Homo sapiens: one gene and its partners. The protein of the gene in region 1 interacts with the protein of each later gene in a pairwise test. Each region holds a gene or a part of one and is shown in the gene's direction. Other genes may lie near its edges. The genes, in order: PPP1R7, MYH3, CLNK and FER.

What was found.
Region 2: the proteins of PPP1R7 (region 1) and MYH3 interact in a two-hybrid assay, tested with the Homo sapiens proteins (one large-scale study listed by BioGRID and IntAct).
Region 3: the proteins of PPP1R7 (region 1) and CLNK interact in a two-hybrid assay, tested with the Homo sapiens proteins (one large-scale study listed by BioGRID and IntAct).
Region 4: the proteins of PPP1R7 (region 1) and FER interact in a two-hybrid assay, tested with the Homo sapiens proteins (one large-scale study listed by BioGRID and IntAct).

Annotation. Positions count from the first base shown.
Region 1 is NC_000002.12:241,151,828-241,157,770, forward strand, and holds part of PPP1R7 (protein phosphatase 1 regulatory subunit 7), read left to right. Parts: intron 1-1,648; coding exon 1,649-1,777; intron 1,778-3,190; exon of another isoform or gene 3,191-3,437; intron 3,438-5,943. UniProt on the Homo sapiens protein: Regulatory subunit of protein phosphatase 1.
Region 2 is NC_000017.11:10,645,226-10,651,168, reverse strand, and holds part of MYH3 (myosin-3), read left to right. Parts: intron 1-767; coding exon 768-795; intron 796-1,483; coding exon 1,484-1,592; intron 1,593-2,519; coding exon 2,520-2,612; intron 2,613-3,742; coding exon 3,743-3,806; intron 3,807-3,888; coding exon 3,889-3,987; intron 3,988-5,136; coding exon 5,137-5,240; intron 5,241-5,323; coding exon 5,324-5,462; intron 5,463-5,943. UniProt on the Homo sapiens protein: Muscle contraction.
Region 3 is NC_000004.12:10,681,007-10,687,485, reverse strand, and holds the start of CLNK (cytokine-dependent hematopoietic cell linker), read left to right. Parts: upstream 1-2,717; 5' UTR 2,718-2,818; intron 2,819-6,479. UniProt on the Homo sapiens protein: An adapter protein which plays a role in the regulation of immunoreceptor signaling, including PLC-gamma-mediated B-cell antigen receptor (BCR) signaling and FC-epsilon R1-mediated mast cell degranulation.
Region 4 is NC_000005.10:108,750,056-108,755,998, forward strand, and holds part of FER (tyrosine-protein kinase Fer), read left to right. Parts: intron 1-5,943. UniProt on the Homo sapiens protein: Tyrosine-protein kinase that acts downstream of cell surface receptors for growth factors and plays a role in the regulation of the actin cytoskeleton, microtubule assembly, lamellipodia formation, cell adhesion, cell migration and chemotaxis.

The DNA of each region.
Region 1 (5,943 bases):
CAGTACCTTAACTCAGACCTTCATCATCTCTAGGCTAGATTGATTGTCCCTGTTCACCAGCCCATCATCCCCAGTACACCAAAGTCATTTTCTTACATGCAGAGCCACTGTCCCATGTTCCAGACCCTCTCTGCTGCCCTCAGGCTTCACTTTGGCCAACCTTCGTTAGCTAAGCCTTTGCTAACCTCACACCACTCCTCCTCTTACTGGGGTTTTTGTGCCAGATTGTCATGCAGTAGAACTTTCTCTCCCTGAGCCTGGACCACCAAGTGACCTGTGCCTGGTGGTGACTAATTTGTTATATATCTACTGCATGTCATGCACGTGCTAACTGCTCTTGTGCCTTTTCTAATTTAACCGTGACAGCAACTTGCTGAGGCATAGGTGCTATACTAGCTCCCTTCCACAGACTAGGAGATTGAGGCTTTCAAATGGAAACGATTTGCCAAAGCTGCATCTCTAGCAGCAAGATGCAAACTCAGGAAGAGCATTCCAGAAATACTTTTGGACTCAAAAGATCAGATTTGGATTTTAGAATTAGATCAGACTCTCTGGCAGGGGAGAATAGGTTAAGCAGGGCAAGACAAGTCACAGAGACGAGTTAGGAGGCAGGGCAGGAGCCCAGGCTGCAGCTAATAAGTAAGTGAGCCACCGTCATTGCGGGGGTAGGGAAGAAGAGATGGATTTGGAGGTTTTGGAGGTGGGTTTTATAAGGACTTGTTTTCTACAGCAATCCTTTCTTGGGTTTTACTTTGCTAGGCTAAGCGGGAAGTACAAAGATGAAGTTGAACTTTTTCCCTCAAAGAGCACATCTCTTTGTAGATAAACCATAGTCAGGAAAGAGTATTTTCAGTATGGTTGATAATTCCAAGTAATGTGTTAGTGCCTCATGTTTTCCAGACAGACTTCCAAAAGAGGTCATGAGTAAAGTTATAAAAAAGAAAAATGATTTGACAACCTTACCAAAGAATTTTTACCTGACACATTGAATTGCCTTATTCTTTAATTCAAAAAATATTTATGAACCTTTAAAAGCCTTAAGTTGCTAACACTCTGTCCAGTGTCCAGTGTGAAAGCTCATTTCACACCAATGAGCTTTCTGTGGGCGGTCAGCACTATTGGCTGTATTCTCCTTTTCCTTAGTGATCCTCCCTGCCCACAGTCTGATTTGAGTTAGTCTTGATTTCTTTCAGAACGTGGGCCTGTGAACTTGGCTGGTTTTCTTAGCCAGATAAATAGTGGAGCATGGATGGAGGTATGTGGCAGAAGGGTCACAGTGGTGATCCCCCAGCCCAAAAGTGAAAGGCACTCAGGAGGTGCTTCACTACCGGGTTCCATTAGTGGATTTAATCACAGGTGATCCAAGGCTTTCAGAACACTGGGCAATTCTTCACAAGCTCCTTGAGGGCAGAAGTAGTGTGTTCCTCACCTAAGTATCCATGTGGGCTCCACACTCTGCTCCCCATTCTCCCCGCGGCCATATGCCTCAAATGGTGCTGGGACATGGGAGACACTCAGATGTTCGTTGAACTGGATTCAACAAACATGTTTAAATGAAATCCTTTTGACTTACAACCGGGTGTTTATTATATGTTCCTCAAAGTCCCATAAAGTGGATGTGAATTCTCATTGACATGTGTGGGTTCAGTTGACAGGCGGGTCGAGTCTGAAGAATCCGGCGATGAAGAAGGGAAGAAACACAGCAGTGGCATCGTGGCCGACCTCAGTGAACAGAGCCTGAAGGATGGGGAGGAGCGGGGGGAGGAGGACCCAGAAGGTACCAGGCCCAGCTCCCTTGGGGACATCTGCTGGTTGGGGGATGTGGGCTGTGCTGCACGTGGTCTGGCCCTGGGTGTGGGTGCTGTGTCGGTCTGGAGAAGGACTGCCGTGCTCCTTAGGGGTCCTCAGTGGCCCAGGGCAGGTGGATATGCTCTTTGAGGTGCTCCTTCAGCAGGCTGACTCATTGATGGCGTTTGCAAAAAGGATGTGGTTTTTTCCAATTCCACTGAAGGCAAATCCTAGCACAAATATGGGTACTAGTATGCCGTCTGAGACAGAACCATGACATTGTTGGCCAGATGCAGTGGCTCATGCCTGTAATCCCAGCACTTTGGAAGGCCAAGGCGGGTGGATCACGAGGTCAGGAGATCAAGCCCATCCTGGCCAACATGGTGAAACCCTGTCTCTACAAAAAATACAAAAATTAGCTGGGCGTGGCAGCGTGTGCCTGTAATCCCAGTTACTCAGGAGGCTGAGGCAGGAGAACCGCTTGAACCCAGGAGGTGGAGGTTGCAGTGAGCCGAGAACACACCACTGCACTCCAGCCTAGGTGACAGAGGGATACTCCTTCTCAAAAAAAAAAAAAAAAAAAAAAAAAGGAAAAAGAAAAGAACCGCAATATTGTTATATTAACCATATGTTTAGGAAATGAGATTCGAAATAAATGTTATGGCTGACTGCTGTGTTTCTATGTCCTACCATAGCAATAGAAACCTTTAATCTCTGAGAGAAATTATTTCTGAGTCTTGCCTTACCATTTTTATAGGCCTGAGGATTGACTTCTAAAGTGCCTAGATGTGGCCGGGCGTAATGGCTTACGCCTGTAATCCTAGCACTTTGGAAGGCCAAGGCGGGTGGATCACTTGAGGTCAGGAGTTCGAGACCAGCCTGGCCAACATGGTGAAACCCTGTCTCTACTAAAAATACAAAAAAAAGAAAAAAAGAAAAATTAGCCAGGCATGGTGGTGTGCACCTGTAGTCCCAGCTACTCAGGAGGCTGAGGCAGGAGAATCGCTTGAACCAGGGAGGCAGAGGTTGCAGTAAGCTGAGATCACACCACTGCACTCCAGCCGGGGTCAGAATGAGACTCCATCTCAAAACAAAAAAGTTTCTGAACAGTATGCATGCATGTATGTACTTTTACCTGCTAAAGAAAGAAAACACATCAAACGGGCTGAGTCTGTCCAAACAGCAGGTTTAAGAAGGATCTATACATTTTGTGTTTTCTAGATTTGTATACAGTGTATGAATAATCATGCATCCCTTATGAAAATAAATTTATGAAGAAACAAACCTAATTTTTAAAATAACATTGTGCTCTCTGTGCCAGCAAAGATGATTGGTAACTATGGCAACCTACTTTTAAGTCACAAGGAGATTACCACAAAAGTACCAGTCACATTCACTTTGGAACTTTGAGGCTGATGTTCTGGAAGTGATGTGGGTGGAATAAAGTGCATGGGAGTGATAGATGGAAGCTTCCGTCATCGCCTGACTTAGTCACCAACAGTGGAGCGGTAGGAGCCCCCGCTATCCTCAGATGGGTGCTGCTGAGACATTGGGTGTTTATGGAGGACTTGAGAGTTGGCAGAGCAAGCCTTGTGTGCTTTCTTTCCCTGGCTCACTAGCACAGGCTAATCATGTTGTCATCATGTTCTGTAAGTACACCAGTGTGGTAATGTGTTATAGATGAGGAAAATGAGACTCTCTGCAGCTTGTCCAAGGGCACACGGCTACAAGGCAGACCAGCTGGCCTGGCCTGGAAAAATCCAAGTTTTTTCTTCGAGATGATTAGCTGATTATGAATTTTCTGGGAATATGCATTTCTAGCCCTTAGAGGAGCCAAGACTTGCTCCTACCTGTATTTATTTAAGTCTTAAATTCAATTAAAACAAATTTAATCATGTCAACTGTTACCTTCTACCTATTTTCCTTAAATTATTTTTAAAATATGATGAATATATAATACACTCAGAAGGGCATTCTAGGCTGGAAACCTTGTTTCAGAGGTTAGCTGACATTTTGAGTGGTGAGCGGCCAGCCCTGCTGGCTGTATTACAAACAAGACCCCTTAAAGCCATGCGACCGTGTGTCCTGAGGAGCCTGGCACAGCCCGTTTCTGCCTGCTGGCCCAGCATAACTGTGCCCTTCTGCTCTCAAAGGGTCCTGGTTTGGACTACATGACCTGGGCGCCCTGCCTTAATTGTAGCACCTCTTCCAGTGCAACTTCCTGAGTTTATGAACGGTGACTTGACACTGTCTTTTGAGGTGATTTGTTATCTATCTCTTGGTTTTGCCCAGTTCCTTTTATTTAATTCTTAGGTTGGTATCCTTTACAGTTGTGGATAAACTATAGTAAACTTTTTTTTTTAACTAACCACAGTTGATGGTTATAGAAAAGGCATAGTGGAAAACAATGAAGTGAATGCAACCATGTGGGATCATGACTTTGTTAAGCTGGTCTGATGTCAGGTGCTCCTCTCAGAGGCCTCCAGGTGAGAGGAGGAGCCAGGCTGGAGGAGCCAGCCCTTGGCATGGGGTCCAGGGCTGTGTGAGCTCACTCCCCTGCAGAAGCAAGTGCACGTTTGCTCTAGGAAGAGCCACAGTAACAGCACTGACAGCCCTGTAAGGTAGTGACAATGACAATCTGTTTACAGGAGAAAGAACATCCTATGCATATAATTCACAGACTCCAGACTGGGAGAAGCACTACAAGACAAACAGCTTGTTTTCCTACAACAGAAAACTGCAAGGGGAAAAAAGAAATTTAAGAAAAATGCTGGGCTGGGTGCAGTGGCTCGTGCCTATAATCCTGGCACTTTGGGAGGCCAAGGTGGGAGGATCACTTGAGGCTAGGAGTTCCAGACCAGCCTGGGCAACATAGCGAGACCCTGATTGTACAAAACATGGTTTTAAAAAATTAGCCAGGCATGGTAGCACACACCCGTAGTCTCAGCTTCCTGGGAGCCTAAGACAAGGATTGCTTGAGCCCACAAGTTCAAGGCTGCAGTGAGCTATGATCACACCACTATACTCCAGCCTGAACAGCAGAGTGAGACCCTGTCTCTTAAAAAAAAATTAATTTAAAAAAGTTTTTTAAAAGAGAAATACCATCTAGTCACAATATACAGCCTTATTTGGATCATAATGCAAGTAAACTAAGGAAAGAAATGTTAAGACAGTTGAGGAAATACGAACACTGACAATCTTTGGTGATATTGAGGAATTACTGTTAATTTTTTTAAGTGTTTTGAGGGGTGAGTGTGCGTGTTTGTGTGTCTGCATGAGTCTGTGTATACCACTGTTGTGCATGCGTGTGTCTGTGTAGTGTGCATACGTGCCTGTGTGTCTTTGTGCATGCGTGTGTGTGTGCATCTGTGTGTGTCTTAGTCCTTTTCAGCACACATGCTGAAGTAGGTTCCAATGAAATGAAATGAGGAAGTGCTTAACAGGGAAGCTGTCGCCTCAGCAGGGAGAGCAGCTCTCTCCCTCCTCCGCACAGAGGATGCCGGCTCCGGGGTAGAGAGTCCTCGTGAAATCCAATGGGCTTCTCTGCTGGAGTGAGTTCACCAGTCTCCCCACTGAGAAGTGTGTTTAAATTATTCAGTGAGCTTCTTTGATCCTATCTGTTGAACTATGTTTTGTTTTGTTTTGCTCTTTGCAGAGGGAAGTGTTTGTAGATGCTGGGCCACCTTCCAAAGCAATAAAAGGCCCATCCTAGAGCATCTGATGTGCCCAGCATGGTCTAGATTCTAATGGCCTGGTTTATTGCCACAAACAAAAAGAGAAAAGCTACATGGGAGGCAGGCTGCTGCCAGTTCTGCAGCTCTGGGAGTCACGGAAAGGCAGTAGTGCTACCCTGCTCACCTGCACTCAGCTACTTCCTCCCCTCCTTCCCACTAACAGGTTCAAAACACATTTCCTTTCTCAGGAAGTTCAAAGGCACAGATGGATGTTTGGTGACCTTTGCCAATATCTGAATTCAGGAAATTCAGAATGCTTAAAACATCACTATTGTTGGAGCAGGGTCTAACCCTGCCACATTCTCCAGGTCCTCAGCAAACCTTCCCATTGGTTCCTCCTCGGGGTTTGAGCTGGCTCTGGGCACCAAACAGCCCCAGACCTCAGCCAGAAGCAGCTCTTCACCAGTGCCTCCTGTTAATG
Region 2 (5,943 bases), on another chromosome or scaffold:
ATGTTGCCCAGGCTGGAGTGCAGTGGTGTGATCTCGGCTCACCACAACCTCTGCCTCCCGGGTTCAAGCGATTCTCCTGCCTCAGCCTCCCGAGTAGCTGCGACTACAGGTATGCACCACCATGTCCGGCTATTTTTATATTTTTAATAGAGACAGGGGTCACTTTGTTGGCCAGGCTGGTCTCAAACTCCTGACCTCGTGATCTGCCTGCCACAGCCTCCCAAAGTGCTGGGATTACAGGCATGAGCCACTGCACCCGGCTGCCACTGGCTGATTCTGAGTGGAGACTTGCCCTCTCTGAGTCTCAGTCTCAAGAAGGAGGCTTTCGATATTGACCAAAGGATACAGCTGGAAAGGAGAAATCGGTGCTGGTGATCTGTCCCATAGAATGGTGACTCCGATAAGTAATAATGCATTGTATATTTCAAAATCCCTAAAATAGTATATTTTAAATGTTTTCTCCACAAAAAAATAAGTATGTGAGGTGACGGATTTGTTAATTAGCTTGATTTAATCATTCTGCCATATAAACATATATCAAATCATCATGTTGTACCCTACAAATATATACAAATATTGTTTGTCAATTAAAAATAAAATAAAATAAAAAGCAGATGGAGGCTCTTCAGATTCCCACCTAAAGGCTAAACAAAAAATGTAAAGGAAGAGGAATTGTGCAATTTAACTCTGGCTACTTGAGAGTTGGGTAGAATCGGGAAGCTCTTTTTCTATTGCCATCAACTCTATTTTATTTTTTCCTCTGGCAGATCGTGAAAACCAGTCCATTCTGATCACGTAAGTATCCATGGCATAGAGTGGTTTCATAGCTGTGCCACTGGCTCTATTCTGTTCATTAGAAAGTGTTTGGAGCAGAGTCTATAATAAAAAGATCAGGCTGGGCGCGGTGGCTGACACCTGTAATCCCAGCACTTTGGTAGGCTGAGATGGGCGGATCACGAGGTCCAGGAGATCGAGACCATCCTGGCTAACACGGTGAAACCCTGCCTCTACTAAAAAAAATACAAAAAAATTAGCTGGGTGTGGTGGCGGGCACCTGTAGTCACAGCTACTCAGGAGGCTGAGGCAGGAGAATGGCGTGAACCCAGGAGCCGGAGCTTGCAGTGAGCCGAGATCGCGCCACTGCACTCCAGCCTGGGCAGCAGAGTGAGATTCTGTCTCAAAAAATAAAAAATAAAAGAGAAAAATAAATAAATAAAAAATAAAAAGATCGATTTGGGGATGGGGAGGAAGGTCTGCATAAGGCCTCAGAAAAATGGAATTACCCATCCTTGGGTCAGCTGAGCAAGTGCCTGTGGCACCTGTGCCCTGGGCGTCTGCCTTCTCAAGTGGTCTGTCACATTAGTGTGGTGAGTGTGTGTCAGAGATGGCTCAGACCATGCCCAGGCCTCAGTATGACATCCTGAAAAGCCTGTTTATACTAACAGACTTGTTTCTTTCTCTCTCTTTTGATCACTCTGTACAGCGGAGAATCCGGGGCAGGAAAGACTGTGAACACCAAACGGGTCATCCAGTACTTTGCAACAATTGCAGCTACTGGGGACCTGGCCAAGAAGAAGGACTCCAAAATGAAGGTATAGATGGGAGAGGAAGGCTTGCTTTGCTTCCACTTTTAACTGTGGTCTTAACCTCAGAATGAGGGGGCCAAATGTCCTCACATTCCCCCCTCTTCAGAGAATGGAGAACAGGCTAGGATTTACTATCTTGAAGGACAGCCAGTCACCTTAGACAACGCAGTGTCAAGTTGGTCTTGTAGGACTAGATCCCGGGATTTCTTAGAAGACAAGGCTCTAGGGCTAAACTTCAGAGGTCAATCTGCAGACGGCTCAGAGAGCTTGTTCTTTTGTGGAAGAATCACATATACCAATGTGAGTGACTCACAGCATATCCTGGGCTTTTGAAACAAATGTATTACAGCAGCATGAAATGAATACGGACAACTGACTGGAGAATCAAGGGATTGAAGTGTTAAAGGAATGCTCAGTCAAGAGATCCCCAACTGTAGTGCCAAATATAACAAAATGGCAAAAGTGTTTTGAGTAAGACATGCTGCTGATTTGGTTGGTCCTAGGATTGGAAAGTCAAGGAGGGTGGGGCTTTATCAGGGCAAGCCAGAGTCACAGAGTGGGTGAGCATTTTTTACTGTCATTCTGTGGCTTAAAAACATGTTTCCTCAGGCTGGGCTCGGTGGCTCACGCCTGTAATCCCAGCACTTTGGGAGGCCGAGGCGGGTGGATCACCTGAGGTTAGGAGTTCGAGACCAACCTGACCAATATGGAGAAACCCCATCTCTACTAAAAATACAAAATTAGCCGGGCATGGTAGTGCATGCCTGTAGTCCCAGGTACTCGGGAGGCTGAGGCAGGAGAATCACATGAACCCGGGAGGTGGAGGTTGCAGTAAGCCAAGATCGTGCCATTGCACTGCAGCCTGGGCAACAAGAGTGTAACTCCATCTCAAAAAAAAATGTTTCCTCTTCTTCCCTCAATTTCTTGCATTAGGGGACTCTGGAAGATCAAATCATCAGTGCCAATCCCCTGCTGGAGGCCTTTGGGAACGCCAAGACTGTGAGGAATGACAACTCCTCCCGTTTTGTGAGTCTGAGTTTGGTTAAGATGGAATTTGCTTTGTGCCTCACAAAATAGGCAAGAGCCCTGTCCTCAAAGAGTGTAGAGACCAGAGGCAACAGATGATGAAAAACAAAACAACCCAACAAGACCATTTCAGATAAAGATAAATTCAGACCAAGTTCAATGAACAGCGTGTGTAAGAGAGGAACTGGGGGCCAGGCTTGCTTTAGGCAGGGTGGGCAGGGAAGACCTCTCTGTGGGGCTGGCACGGGAGCTGAGAGCCGCAGTATGAGAAAGAGCCCAACTTGAAATGACAGGAAGGAGGGGGAACGAAGGAAGGGCCAGGGCAGTCCCTGACATGGGGGAGGGCCTGGTGCAGTCAGGGCACCTACAGAGGGTCTGTGTGGTTGTAGGGAGGAGGGCAGGGGGGCCAGTTCCATGAGATGAGGTGGAAGAGAGAGAGACCTGGTCATGTGGGAGCCACAGGCCATGAGAAGGAGTTTGGATTCCTTTTGAAGTGTAACAGGAAGCTACTGAGGGATTCTATAAGCCAGGGAGTGATATGGTTTGATTTACACCTTGAAACAATCACTGTAGTTGCTTTGTTGACTAGATACGTTGAAGTGGGGGATGAGCATAGAATAAAAGGGATAAATAAAAGGAAATAAGGAAAACCCCAAACTGGAAGAAGAAGAAGGGAGAAGAGGAAGGACATATCTAATTTCAAACTGTAGGGGGTGCTGGGCACGGTGGCTCACGCCTGTAATCCCAGCACTTTGGGAGGCCGAGGCGGGCGGATCACGAGGTCAAGAGATCGAGACCATCCTGGCCAACATGGTGAAACCCCGTCTCTATTAAAAATACAGAAATTAGCCAGGTGTGGTGGCACGTGATTGTAGTCCCAGCTACTCAGGAGGCTGAGGCAGGAGAATCACTTGAACCCGGGAGGCAGAGGTTGCAGTGAGCCGAGATCACGCCACTGCACTCCAGCCTGGTGACAGAGCGAGACTCCGTCTCAAAAACATAACAAAACAAAACAAAACAAAACAAAAATTTTAGGGGGACTAGGCTCCTACTCAAATTACCCATAAGATGAATAGGAACTATTGGGCCATGGTAGAATCTGGTCTCCCCCTGAATCCCGCCCCATACAGGGCAAGTTCATCCGAATCCATTTTGGAACCACTGGGAAGCTGGCCTCTGCAGATATTGAAACTTGTAAGTAGATCCATGGGGATTCGATGGCGTCTCAGAGTTAACTGGGAACAGTTTGAAAGAGAGTCCTGTGTTTGTGTTCCAGATCTTCTGGAAAAATCAAGAGTCACTTTCCAGCTGAAGGCTGAAAGAAGCTACCACATCTTCTACCAGATTCTTTCTAACAAGAAGCCTGAGCTCATAGGTGAGGAAGTCACCAGTGGGGCTGGTCTTTTAGGTAGTTTGACTCTGATCACTAGACCAAGGAGAGTTGTATCTACGTAGAGTGACTCTACAGTCAACAGGGAAAGTTTATTTTATTTTATTTATTTATTTTGAGATAGGGTCTCACTCTGATGCCCAGGCTGGGGTGCAGTGGCACAAGCACAGCTCACTTGTAGTCTTGACCTTTCTGGGTTCAAGTAATCCTCCAGCCCCAGCCTCCCGAGTGGCTGCGACTACAGGTGCATGCCCCCACACCAGGCTACCTTTTGTGTTTTTTGTAGAGATGAGGTTTCACCATGTTGCCCAGGTTGGTCTTGAACTCCTGGGCTCAAGCAATTTGCCCGACTCGGCCTCCCACAGTGCTGGGATTATAGGTGTGAGCCACTGCACTTTGCCAGGAAAAGCTTATTTTAGAAATGGGATGTGGCTATCTGGGCAGTGACATGCCAATTTGAAAACCTAATCAAATGGAGGGCAACAAGATTAGACCACTCCTGACCAGCTCTGGTTTATAAAAACCTTCTGAGCAACTGAACACCTAACTGTCCTTTGGCGCCCCCTTGTGTTCTGGCACAGAAACAACCTATGGCCAAATGCGACGCCAAAGCAAACAGAATAATCAAGCCCACGGAGGCACTGCACACTGCCCCTTGTCTGCCCCTCACAGAGGTCTCCATGCACACTGCTTCTTTGCTCTTTGGCTGTATTTGCTCAGCCTTCTGGTCTCCAGCTTGGAAACAGGCTGCTGCTTTTCAACAGATTTTAGAAAAGGCTATGATTATACCAAACCACCTGGGTTGGCTCTCGTCCTGACCCGCACTCAGCCAGTTTTCCCTATTAACTTCTCCCAGCCGACACTGATATGCACCATTAGCGTGCAAGGCAAGGGAATTTAAAGGTTCTCTCTAGGGTCCTTCATCTCCATTGTGTGGGAGACTGAAAAGTCTTCCCTGGACTATATTTTCCATGACAGCCTGAGTATTGTGGAACTGTCTAAAAGATTTTTAATTCTAAGTTCAATTTAGGATCCAGCGGTAAAAGTTCCAGCCCAGGGTGCAGGAGCTCAAGTCCACTGGGTGGGTTTTTTCTTTGCATCTGCATAACCTCCTGGAACTATTTGTCATTTCAGAGCTGCTGCTTATTACGACCAACCCTTACGACTACCCGTTCATTAGCCAGGGGGAGATCCTGGTGGCCAGCATAGATGATGCAGAGGAGCTGCTGGCTACAGACGTAAGTGGAACCAACAGAAGGGGTGGGTGTTCCTCCTCCATCACTGGGGCCAACTGACTGACGTGCTGCCCTTTCCATGCCAGAGCGCCATTGACATCCTGGGCTTCACCCCAGAAGAGAAATCTGGGCTCTACAAGCTGACGGGAGCCGTGATGCACTACGGGAACATGAAGTTCAAGCAGAAGCAGCGAGAGGAGCAGGCCGAGCCGGATGGCACAGAAGGTACAAAATCAGTGTGACAGCAAACCAGAGCGGGTGGCTGATCTGCTGAGGTCACTTGGTACTGCTTTTGAAAGCAATTAATCCAGCCAGGCACAGTGGCTCACACCTGTAATCCCAGCACTTTGGGAGGCTGAGGGGGCCAGATCACCTGAGGTCAGGAGTTCGAGACCAGCATGGCCAACATGGTGAAACCCCATCTCTACTAAAAAAAATTAGCTGGGCATGGTGGAGCATGCCTATAATCCCAGCTACTCAGGAGGCTGAGGCACGAGAGTCAGACAGAGTTTTGCTCTGTCATCCAGGCTAGAGTGCAGTGGCATGATCTCAGCTCACTGCAACCTCTGCTGCCTGGGTTCAAGTGATTCTCCTGCCTCAGCCTCCCGAGTAGCTGGGATTACAGGCACACACCACCGCGCCTGGCTAACTTTTTTGTATTTTTAGTAGAAACGGGGTTTCACCATGTTGGCCAGGCTCAAACTCC
Region 3 (6,479 bases), on another chromosome or scaffold:
TCTTCCTTCCTTCCTTCTCTCCTCTTCCCTCCTCTTTTTTCTCCATTTCTGCTCCAGCAAATTTCTACCTATTGTCAACACCTCAGATCTCTTGTCACTTCCCCAGAGGAAATCTGGTCTGAATTCACAGAGTAGAACACATTCGCCTCCTATTTGTTTCAGAGCCCTCTTTGTTCCTGTCTCTGAATACATCATCTTGATGGTTGATTTCTTGTTCAATACCTCTCTATTATATTAGATTCGAAACTCCATGAAGGTAGGGACAAGTTTTTTTTTTTTTTCACCTCTATATCCCCACAGCTTGCCCAGTGGCTGATAGTAGTAGGTAGAGGATGTAAATATCTATTTGTTAAATCAATACATGTCTGATCAGGCACTATTCATTGCATTTACCACAAATTGTAGTTTTATATATATCTGAAGTCCATTCATTTATTTTCACCTCTTCTAGGCTGTAAGCTCCATCAAAGGAGTAGGTATATCTCTTATCTAATTGTATTTTTCAGCACCTAATAGAGCTGCTGATGCATGGTATATATTCAATAGATAATAAATTAATGAATGATATTCCAAGAAAAAAAGCTTTAAATATCACCTACACTATTATCAGCTTTCTCATTAAACCAAATTGTCTTCAATTCTTCATGAGTAAAAAGCAGAAATATTCATATCATTAGACTTGGGTTCTTATTGCAGTCTAGCCACCAATTGGATGTGAACATGCATTTTTAGATTATTTGCCAATGAAGACCACAATAATTCACTTTTCTTCATTCACCCCTTGAATAGTCTTCTCCCACATTTACTCTGAACTTGGCCATGTGACTTGCTTTGGCCAATGGGACCATGGCATCTAGGATGCAAGCAGAGGCCTGGAAAAGGCTGGAGGCTGGAGTTTCCCCTCTCCCACTGCCCTTAGTGCCCCAAACCCACCGTGTACATGGGCCTAGCTGGCCACTAGATAACAGGAAGCTATGCAGAGGAGAACAGAGGCACCTGGCTGACATGATTGCCAACAAACAGATTCATGAGTGTGATAATCTTAGATCATCCAACTGCCTCTCAACCCACTAGCACAGACCAGATGATCAGGTCTTGTTATGGGTCGAATACGTCCCAGCTAAAATTCATTTGTTAAAGTCCTAACCCCCCACTACCTTGGAATGCCTTCTGACATGGAGACTGGGTCTTTAAAGAGGTAATCAAGTTAAAATTGGGTAATTAGGGTGAGCCATCATTCACTGTGACTCCTCTCCTGATAAGAAGGGGAAATTTGGACAAAGACACAGGGAGAATGCCATGTAAACACAAAAACAAGGATACAAAGACACCCACAAGCCGGGGATAAAGGCCTGGAACAGATCTTCTCCTCATGGCTCTCAGGAGGATCCAACCTTGCCGACTCCTTGATCTCAGACTTCCAGAGGCCAGACTGTGAGACAATACAATTTGACCTTCTGTTTTGTTAGCCACTCAGGGCTCAGTCCTTTGTTATGAAAACCCCAGAAAATTAATATGGGTCCAGACCAAAAGAAGTGAGCAAGTGACACACACAATTATGAACTAAATAAAGTGGTTACTGCTTTAAGCCCCTAATGCAGCAAAAGCTAATTAATAAAGTGGTTAAACTACTCGAGTCTCCCTAGTCTTCAGTTTTCACAATTACAAAATGGGATTTTACATATGTTCCTTACATGGTTATTAGTAAGATTAAGGAGGATAATGCTTGCAAGTTGCTTAGCAATGTAACTGACTCACAATTAGCATTCAAAGAGTGCTTATTTTCATGTTTTCCTTGGGGTGTCTGTTAAGTCAAAACCAGAGTTATTTACCCAAGAAAATATAAACTTCTACCTTTGAATTTATTGTAAATAATGTTGGAGTTTGTTATGGAATTCAACATCAATTTATATAAAACTAGAATGTCAAGTCTCCAGAAGAGGAAACAGGCACTCGGCAAGATCAGCTTAAATGGACCAAGATTAAGGCCGAAAGAAAATGTATTAAGCAACTGATATGTGCCCAAACATTACTGCATGCCTTTATTTACAATATTTTGTTTATTTATTGAAATACTTCTAAAATATAAATATTATCCTTCCATCACAATTGAGGAAATATCATTTCCTCAATGAAGGAAATATAATCCTCAATTATCCCTCATTTTTTAAAAAAGTTTCTAAAATACAAATATTATTATCACTCAAACTACTTGAGAAATAAACTTCAAAGTGCCCAAGATCCTATAGCTAATAATTAATACAGCAAGAATAAGAGGCAGGCATTTCTCCTTTAGTTCCCAGGTTCTTTCCTTAACACCTGGTCCATGTGTCTGGGATGGTCTCAGGAAGCCATTGCAAAATTAAGCCAAAAGATGATAGTTAATGTCCACTATTCATATAAAGTGAGACTCGCAAAACCCACCTTCCATGCTTGAGTGTTGCCCAGCAGTTCCTTTTATTGTGTTCTGGTAACTATGAAGTGCCACATAAGGACACCGTGTGTCTTTAAAAACACCCTTTGCATTGGAAGATTTCAGCCTCTGAAAGCTTCACGTATTGCACTCCAGCCTAAGAAGAGGAAGTCCTGCCAGCCCTCAGGTCAGACCTCTCAGGTCTGTGGCTGCATTTCACAGGAAACCAAGTCTAAAACGGACCTATCAGGAGGTTTTCTGCTGAAGGGCACTGCTTAGCATCGAGAAGAATTCAACCCACCGCCTTACTAATTTCCAGTGCCCCAAGGTCTCTGCACTGCCGCCCCTCCTCACAGGAGACGGACACCTCAGCCTAGATCCCTTGGTGCTCTCCACGCTGTTCAGGTAAACTCATTAGGCCAGTTCTTCTGAGTGAGGATCTCATGGTCATCTCCTTGTCATAAATGATCATCAGGAAAGACCTGAGCAGCAAGTAAAAATGTGTTTCTAAAGTGGAAGTCTGGGCCTTATATATAGCATCAAAGGAGCAAGAAGAAAGCCCTTAACTCAATTGTTAAAGATCCTTTCATTCTTTTGGGAGAAAGAATCAGGATACCTACCCACAGAAAATTAAAAGACTAAATGTTTTCAATCTTCTTTTCCTGGAGCTTGGACTCCCCGACTGTTTGCAACTGAAATCTAAAGACCAGGCCCCATGGCTGGCTTTCCTGGCTGACCTTCATTAAGTAAGCCCTCTAGAAAGAAAGCCTCCATTCAAAGTAGGTCATTCAAAGTATAAGTTAACTCCTGGAGCCCTGTGGAAATATATTTTTAACATTTTCTAAAGTAATACGATTTTCTTTCTGCTTTGGTGTAGAGGAGACTTAGACTTTGGAATCACGCAGACATCCTTCCACTCACAAGAGTAAGGAGCTCAAAAGTGAGGTTAAAGTTGGGGTTAAATTCTTACTCTTGAAAAGTGCCGGGAGTCATCTCTACCAGGCTTTTATTGGATAAAGCAAACAAACTGGAATGAGACAGAAAAGAAAATAACTATCATCAAAATATGGATACTTTGATTTTAAAAGGTGTCGATATGCCTGAACTTTTTATCAATACTGTTTTTATTACTTTACACCAGTGTTACTCATTTGGCTTCTCTGTTATGAGTATTACTTGTCTATTACCTACATGGCTATTTCTCTGGCTGTCTCTGTCTATACTGTGGCGCAGCTCCTCAATAGTGTTGTTCTTTGGATTTCCAGGGGCCTCCCAAACCACCAGGAATAATCATTTCAAATATCAAGAAGACGATGGTAGAGCTGGTTAATTGAAGGCCTACCAGAGAAATGACAGCGCTTCAGAAATCCTCTAAGAAGCTTAAGATACAGTATGCCCTAGAGAAGTAGGAATGGCAACTGGCATTTACTTACCTTCAGCTCCTGCTGACCTAGAGAGCTGGCTATTACTTTCCCTGGTTTACAGGTGAAGAACTTGAGTTCTCTAAGTAATATGTGCAAGGTTGTTCAGTCACTAATGTCAGTAACAGAATTCAGAAGGAAACTGATTTTCCTGGCTGACTGATTGGAATGGTGAACAGTGTTAGTTTGCAGTTTCACAGAGCTCATCCCTAAACTCACTCCTGGGTGGTCTCTGACACCAACCATCTAAATGGTAGTATTTCTTTGTTATTCCCAACAAGCCCTCTCAGATGACTGTATAGGCAAGACCATTTGAAAGCCAGTGCTTATAATCTTCTGTACCATCTGGCCAGCTCTGGCCTGAACACCAGGGGATTCTGTTTCTCGATCACTTTGCCATGAGTCAGGTGCTGTCTTAGAAAGACTGTAGGATTTGACGCCTGATCAAAATGGTGAGGATCCTGACTCTGCCACTTGGACCAGGGATGTTGTTTCATATATGATCCTCATTTCCTCCCCCTTTTTAATAAAGTAAGATCTCATAAGACTTGTATTGACAATTATTTAGCCTCAATAATATAATATTTATATTACGTGAAATATGGTGCATTCTTAACACTTAGCAAGTATTCAGTAAGTGTTGACTTCTTTCTCCATTACTTTCCTTTCCTCACTCCAAATCAGTTCTGATTTTATTCTTAAAACATGACCACAATCAACATAGAATTGATTAATACACATAAGTTTACAAATATTGTATTTTAATAATCTCATTAGAGAATGGTAATATTCCACAGTTGTATAGCCCTATGTAATGTAGGCCTTTGAATACATATTTTCTTCTTGAATGATCTTAACAGCTTAATGAAGTAGGCAGAGCACGTATTAGAGCATTTAAAAGGTGAAACTGGGGCTTAGAAAAGATGAGGAAGGACAACATGGTGAAATGGAAAGAAACAGGGCTTTGAGATTGTCAAAAATGGACATGAATCTAGTGTGTGACTTTACTGTTCGTCTTTAGGTAAGTAGCTTAACCTCTCTGATCTTTAGTTAGCTGTTGTTGGAGTTGTGTAATTTGAAACTGGGAGGAAGAATACATTTTGTGTGTTGCTTCGAGAGTGAGAGCAAATGTGCACACAGTGTCTGACACAGAAGAGATAGCCAGGAACTGGCTAAATTTTCACATGAAGAGTAGCAGACAGAGATCTAGAAGCATCCTTTTCTGAATCCTAGTACATGGAGCAGTTATATCCACTGTCATAAGCTACTGCCAACATCTGCCAAGACTTGAGTTCTGCAGAGTTCTTCTAGGCTGTACCTACCCTCCTAGCATGACAAAGAAACATAAAGTGTTCAAAGCGGCTAAATTACTAACCAGAGAGATAAATACCTGAATTTAAATTCTATTTATGATTTTTAACAGATTAAACCAAACATTCACGATTTTACCAATAAAACTGAGAAGCATCAGGTTAGATATCAGCAATAACGAAAAAATCACACACACACACACACACATACACACACACAAACAGAATTGTGGAATAGAGCTATCATAGGACCAATTTTTGTGTTTATTATTTATTTTTTGTTACTCTTATGGGCAGAATATTTGGGAATCATTATTGTGATTATTCTGCTTAATTTTAATCATGTCTTCCAAAGAGCAATGACTTACAGGTTACCATTTAAGTGTTGCTGATAGACAAGAAACGCTCATCATTTCTCACTTTTTAAGTAGGTGTACTTAATTCTTACTTTACAAAACGGATTCTGAAGTTCAGGCAGGCTCCATGCATTGTCCATTTCATGCAATGAATAGGAGGATATGCCAGAAATGAGACCCAGGTCCACCCGAGCCCCGAGCTCCTGCTCTCGGCATGGTGCTCCATGAGTACCCTGCTGATGTTCCCAGGTTCATGATCAGGGCATCAATCACTGTCTTCCAAACTAGTCAACAGCATTTAAGGAACTCCCAGATACACCACAAGCATTAGCAAAATATGTATTTTAGTTGTTTCTTTTAAATTTCATTGGTGATACTAATTGAAACACTGCTTCCTAAACACTTATGCATGAGAATCAAAATCCTATTGTGTTTAAATGGTACTGTGGTTTGTCATTTGAACTAAGATGAGCCAAAAGGTCTAGATACAACATGAAAATTTAATATCCATGTGATTGGATGATAATCTTTAACAGTGGTAGGTTCTGTGTTCAATTTCGTGTAAGATAAAGATAAGGGCTGACTAATAGCCTAGGCCCAAACTCTGAGAGGGCTGAATTTTTGTGGACTGCCTAAGGACCACATTTCACCATCAGTTTTGAAGACCCAGAAAGCTAATTGTATCCAAGGCACACAGAGTTGATGGAGCTCAAGAGGTCAGTTCACTCTGGTACTTTGACCTATGTATCCATCTTTGGTGATTTTGTTCAAGTGTACTCAAATTATAAGTTCAGATGATTGGCATATTCCCTCCCAGGAGACAAATGTACACAGGAAACTAAATTGATATTGGGCAGTAGCTTGTTGAGCACTAAGTCAGAGCTGTGTAATTTCAAAAGCTGGATTTGCTGAGCTATGGGTGGTCTGATGCCTTGGCAGGCACCTGGAAAGCCAGTCTGCCCCATGGTTACCTGTAGAA
Region 4 (5,943 bases), on another chromosome or scaffold:
TAATGGTTGTCTCACTATCACTTTGACATAAACTGCTGTAAAGGTGTACTCCATTTTCCTTTTCTCCAGATATGTTAAGATAATAAATTTCTCAGATGAGGTTACCATATATAAAAGTGTAGTGGAACATCAATAAGAGAATAGATCAAAACTATTTTAGTGATTAAAGATTAGAAAATACTTTTCAATTCATATGTGGAATGAGAATAGGATAAAAAAAAAAAACTATTGCAAAATCTTTAGTGCAGTATTTGTAGTCCTGGTATATATACCTGTGTTGCCCTTAAGAAGACATTTGTGAGTAGCTCCAGGTTTGTCAGTCGGGAAAGCAGAGTGTATCTTTTTGTAGTCCAGGAAAGCTTTTCTGCTAGTACTTTTGAGCCAAGAGAATTATGCTTCCAAAGATGCTGGGAATATATTAAGAGAGTACATAGGCATACTTCTGTTTTCATCTTTGAAAGACCTTTAGTGAAGATCTGTTTCTCTTCTGCATTGATTGTTGACAGCATTAAATATACATAATCTAAAACTATGTAGTGTCAAGTTGTTGCAGCTTCTGCACTGCTTCAAAGGTTGATGTCTTTAGTTCAGAAGAAATAATTCAAGCTTTGGTAGACAAATCATTTACATTTCATCTTCGATGTAGATGTTACTGTAACTCTGGACCGTGAACATTTCAAATTTGCCAGTTTTTTCTCAACTATTTTACTATGAAAAATTTCAAACAATGCAGAAGAGTCGAGTTGAACCCACCACCTATATATTTAGCAATAACGATTTCAAGACCACTGTTACACAGTAAACATTAAGGAATAGAGGAACTGAAATGATCAAGCTTAAAAAACCAGCGTATGTGGCCGGGCGCGGTGGCTCATGCCTGTAATCCCAGCACTTTGGGAGGCCGAGGCGGGCGGATCACCTGAGGTCGGGAGTTCGAGACCAGCCTGACCAAAATGGAGAAACATGGTCTCTAATAAAAATACAAAATTAGCCGGGCATGGTGGTGCATGCCTGTAATCCCAGCTACTCGGGAGGCTGAGGCAGGAGAACCGCTTGAACCCGTGAGGCGGAGGTTGTGGTGAGTGGAGATCACACCATTGCACTCCAGCCTAGGTAACAAGACCGAAACTCCATCTCAGAAAAACAAAAAACAAACAAACAAAAAAACCACAAAAAGCCCAGCATATGTATATACATGTATATGTAGTATACATGTATATACACACCACCAAATTATAAGGTGCTTATTTTTGTTTGTGAGTGGGAATTGTACTTACTAAAACTATACTAACTTAATTACATGAGACTATTCAAAGCAATCTTGTGAGTGAGGTAGGAAGTCATCATCTTTGTAATCAAGGCCCAAATAAGTAAACTGCATTTTGGTAATCAGACAAAAGGAAATCTGATGAACTTGTTATACAAAAAAACGTTTTGCTTCAAAATTGGACTCCTGTGTAAATAGATTATAGTTTTGTACTTGATTTATAAATAAACATCTTTTGGAGGGAAGTCCAAGGGACTATCAATTATGTAAAATTTTGGTAACTTGATAAATTGGGTCAATCTTATGTCTGTTCATTTGGAATAAGAATGTATTTTTGTAATGGAAAAAGCTTACAAAGGTGAACTTTTTTTAGTAGAACTGCTTCATGGAGACTGACGTAATTAGAGAAATTTAAGTCAGTATTTCGATAGGACTCAACGATCTTGGGTGTTGTCTCATGGTTCTGAGGAATATTTTGATATAAAACTTCAATTTATAGTAAAGGAATAAGTGGAAATGGGTATAAATTCACACATTTGTATATTTGTAATTTTTCTATACCCGAGAAATTTGTGTACACCTTTTTAAGTATTTGAATCTTGCTTTTTAGTTTTTGCATACCCTAAATCTGTTTTTCATACTTACCTCGTTCATATAGTAATTTCTTAAATATTAAGGGCTATGTCTCAGAATTTATAGATCTCTGGATTGCTTTATTACTATTTTTCCAAATTTCATTTGTCTTTGGTATGCTTATGTATGGTTAACCTATCATGCTATTGAGAGACTGAAGGAAACAATTAGGTCACAGTTTTAGAACTTTAGTTGTAGATTCAGTGAACTCAGAAACAATTGGATTTTTTAAAATCAAGGCTCCAATTTTCCCTTCCCTCCCTTCCTCCTTCCCTTTTTTTACTCCTTTTCTTTCTTATTTTTGTTTGATTATAAATGTTAAATGCCTTACAATCAATTCAGAAAACTATAGAGAAGAAAATGAAGTCACTCATCATTCTACCATAATGATTTGAAAACTAACAAACTTTGATTTCTTCTGTAACACTCTACCAATTATTGAGATTTTATGGTTTTCATTTCAGTGTATCTGCATTCACATCAAAATTTGTAAGAGTTCCTGAACTTGAGGCTGTTACCTTAAATTAGAAGAGGGCTCCTAGATCTGGGGGAAAAATGGAAAAGAATAAATAGAGGACAGATTAGAGTCAGAACAGAGGAATTAGACCCAAGCAGTTACTGTTTCTTATTCTGTAAGTATAAATATTTTAGTTTACCATATAAAACTGCTGTATGGCTGACAAAATATGAGGCCATATTTTTTCTTTGGAATTCAAAGTATCTAGGTAAAACAAAGTTTTCTTGGTTCTTTTCAAGAAATAGTTCAGATTTCTTCATTTTTGGAGGATATTACATAATTCAGCTTTAAAAATTTAATGTCATGCATGTTTGGAATTATTTTAAAAATATTCATATCAGACAATTACTAATTTTTATTCATCATCACCATTCATTATAAACTTGATATTGTCACTTTTTTTAGTAGGTATTAAAAGACTGGACATTTTATGTAGGTTTTCCTTGCTAGGTTTCAAAGTGTAGTGAAAAGAGGAGCCATTTATTTTAGAGTCAGATAATCGGGTTTTAGTTCCAGTTTCTGTTCTGTGGGATCTTGGACAAGTTATTTTATCTCTTTAAGTCATAATTTTCTCATCTATTCAATAGGGATAGTAAAATTGCTTCACTAGCTTGTTACATAGAAGAAATGAGACAATGTAGGTAAGATTTAGGAAGTATTAAACTGACTTTAGGAAGTATTCAGCTTCTGTATTCAGTTCTTTATGTGATAACATTGATTTTATCTCTCCTTGTATTAATGTGTTTATTATACCATCCACAAAGTCCTTGTTTCAGACATAAGAAATTAAAATATAATTAAATTTACTTAAATTTAAATTTACAATAAATTTACTTAAGTTGAATGACATTTGCATTTATACAAATAAATAGTTAGAAATATCTCAGATTAGCTGTTCTTTTTATAAATCTTAGCTTATTGTATCTCAGCAGGGATAATTATAAATTTACTTTAAATGATTTTTAACTCCAAAATATCTCCAGTTTGTCTGGATTCCTGATTTATTTTTCTTTTTGCCTAGATGATCATGTGTTTTTGGATGGTTGCCCTAAATTCCTTTCATTTAAACCACAGGTATTAGCTACACGTTACTGTCTTAAATCTCTAACTAGTGCCCCCGCAAACACATTTTCTCAATCTGTTTAAAATTTAAACTTCATTTTTAAATTTAATAATACCCTTATTTGTATATTAGTTGTGTCTTTTCCACCTCCTACTGAAACGTATGATTATTTTTTAAGGAGCAGTATTTTACAGATATCCCTGTTTCAGATTGTGTGTTCTGTAAATACAGGGTTCTAATTCTTAAAGAACATACAGTTTAAATGGGCAGACCAGCCTATGGTTATTCTGTGTAGAGAAGCAAGCACTGAACTGACTTAGCAGTTGAACTAGAGTCCATATGGTCTCATCCAGCAGTAAAACAGATTTTTGTGATCCAAGTCAGTTTTCTTATATTTTTTCCCGTCCAGGTACAAGATATTTACATGTATGACATATTCCACTGTGCAGTTTTCTAGCATGCGAGCTCTAATTCAGTCTCTCTCCTATTCAAGAAAGCATATTAGAATGCAGATGATTGAGAGTGACATCATTATGGGTATAAACTTGAATCTACTCTGATTTATTGGAGAAAGTGAGTCATTAAAAAATGTGGGCTGGGTGCAGTGGCTCATGCCTGTAATCACAGTATTTTGGGAGGCTGAAACGAGAGGATCACTTGAGCCTAGAAGTTTGAGAGCAGCCTGGGTAACATAACGAGACGGCACTCTACAAAAAAGTTAAAAAATTAGCCCGATATGATGGCATGTGCTTGTACTACTACTAAGGTGGCTAAGGCAGGAGGATTCCTTGAGCCCAGGAGTTCAATACTGCATTGAGCTATGATTGCAGCACTGTGCTTCGGCCTGGGCAACAGAGTGAGTCCCTGTCTCAAAAAAAAAAAAAAAAAAAAAAAATAGTGTGTAAGTATTGTTAGTAACAAGTACTGAAGACATACCTTACAATTCTGTAAGGGACCCAAGTTATTTCCACATTTTCCTGAAGTGAATGCCCCTTTAGTTTTTCTTATCATTCTTATAATGCTACATAAGAAAATATTATTACACTAATTTTATGTCATTAATAGAGACCTATATTTAAAAGTTAGAATAACTTAATGAACATGTAAAAATATTTAGGTAACAGTACCTCAGTCTGTATTGTGACTGGAATAACACTAATTGTTGTACAAAAATTGAAATTAGTTTTCTAGTGTAAATCATTTTGCTTGCAAAAAGGCTATTTCTATATTGGGACTCATGGTTTTAAGAGAAGTGGAAACAGTACTAGAATTTTTATTTTCTAGGCACTTAGAATGTAAAAATGCTCTTTACATTGGCTCAGTCAGAAAAGTATCTTTGCATTACCATGAATAGAGCTTAATTTTAAATCACTCATCCTATGTGGAAGTACCACGTATAATATACAGTTCCAAGTGAAGACTTAGTAGACCTTTGATATTTGCAAGTGGTATTTCCTGAAACCTTTGTGAATCTAGGATATAACCACCTCCATAAAATGCAGTCAAATTTAATGGAAAAGTTTAAGTGATCCCTTCAGACCCGTACAATCCGGTAAGGAGGACTCGAGTCATTAAAGCTATTAATTTTTTTGCTTCTGAAATGAAGACTAGACAACTTTGCATTACATTATTTGTATACAGGCAAGGTTCTTATTCTTGCCCCTTGTATCCTATAGTTTGCAGAATAAAAGAGCATTTCTGGCTTAATCACAAAGCTTGCTGCGTTGTCACAAGGTTTAGTCCTTGGTCGCTGTAATGCTTTTCTGTATGCTTCTGTTTCTTGGATGTTTTCTCCTTGGAGTTGAACACTTCTGTAGTATGTGTCCTTTCTCTGGATGTCTTCAGCTTGGGAGACTTTCCCAAGCTTCCGTGGATTGATGGGGCTCCCTTGTTAATTTCACATTCTACAAAGAAAAGTGCATTTGACTCTTCTAGCAGTGTTCAGGGTTTTTTTGTTGTTGTTTTTTGAGACAGAATTCCACTCTTGTTGCCCAGGCTGAAGTGCAATGGCACAATCTCGGCTCACCGCAACCTCCACCTCCCGGGTTCAAGCAATTCTCCTGCCTCAGCCTCCCGAGTAGCTGGGATTACAGGCATGCACCACCACGCCCGGCTAATTTTTTTGTATTTAGTAGAGATGGGGTTTCACCATGTTAGTCAGGCTTGTCACAAACTCCTGACCTCAGGTGATCCACCCGCCTTGGCCTCCCAAAGTGCTGGGATTACAGGCATGAGCCACAGTGGCTGGCTGCAGTGTTCAGTTTTGATAACAAATGGGTCAGTAGCCACCCTAGCAGCTATACCACATCTTGTTTTATGAAAATATACAGTATCAGCCGGGCACTGTGGGTCACACCTGTAATCCCAGCACTTTGGGAGGCCGAGGTGGGTGGATCACCTGAGGTCAGGAGTTTGAGACCAGCCTGGCCAACATGGTGAAACCCTGTCTTTACTAAAAAAATA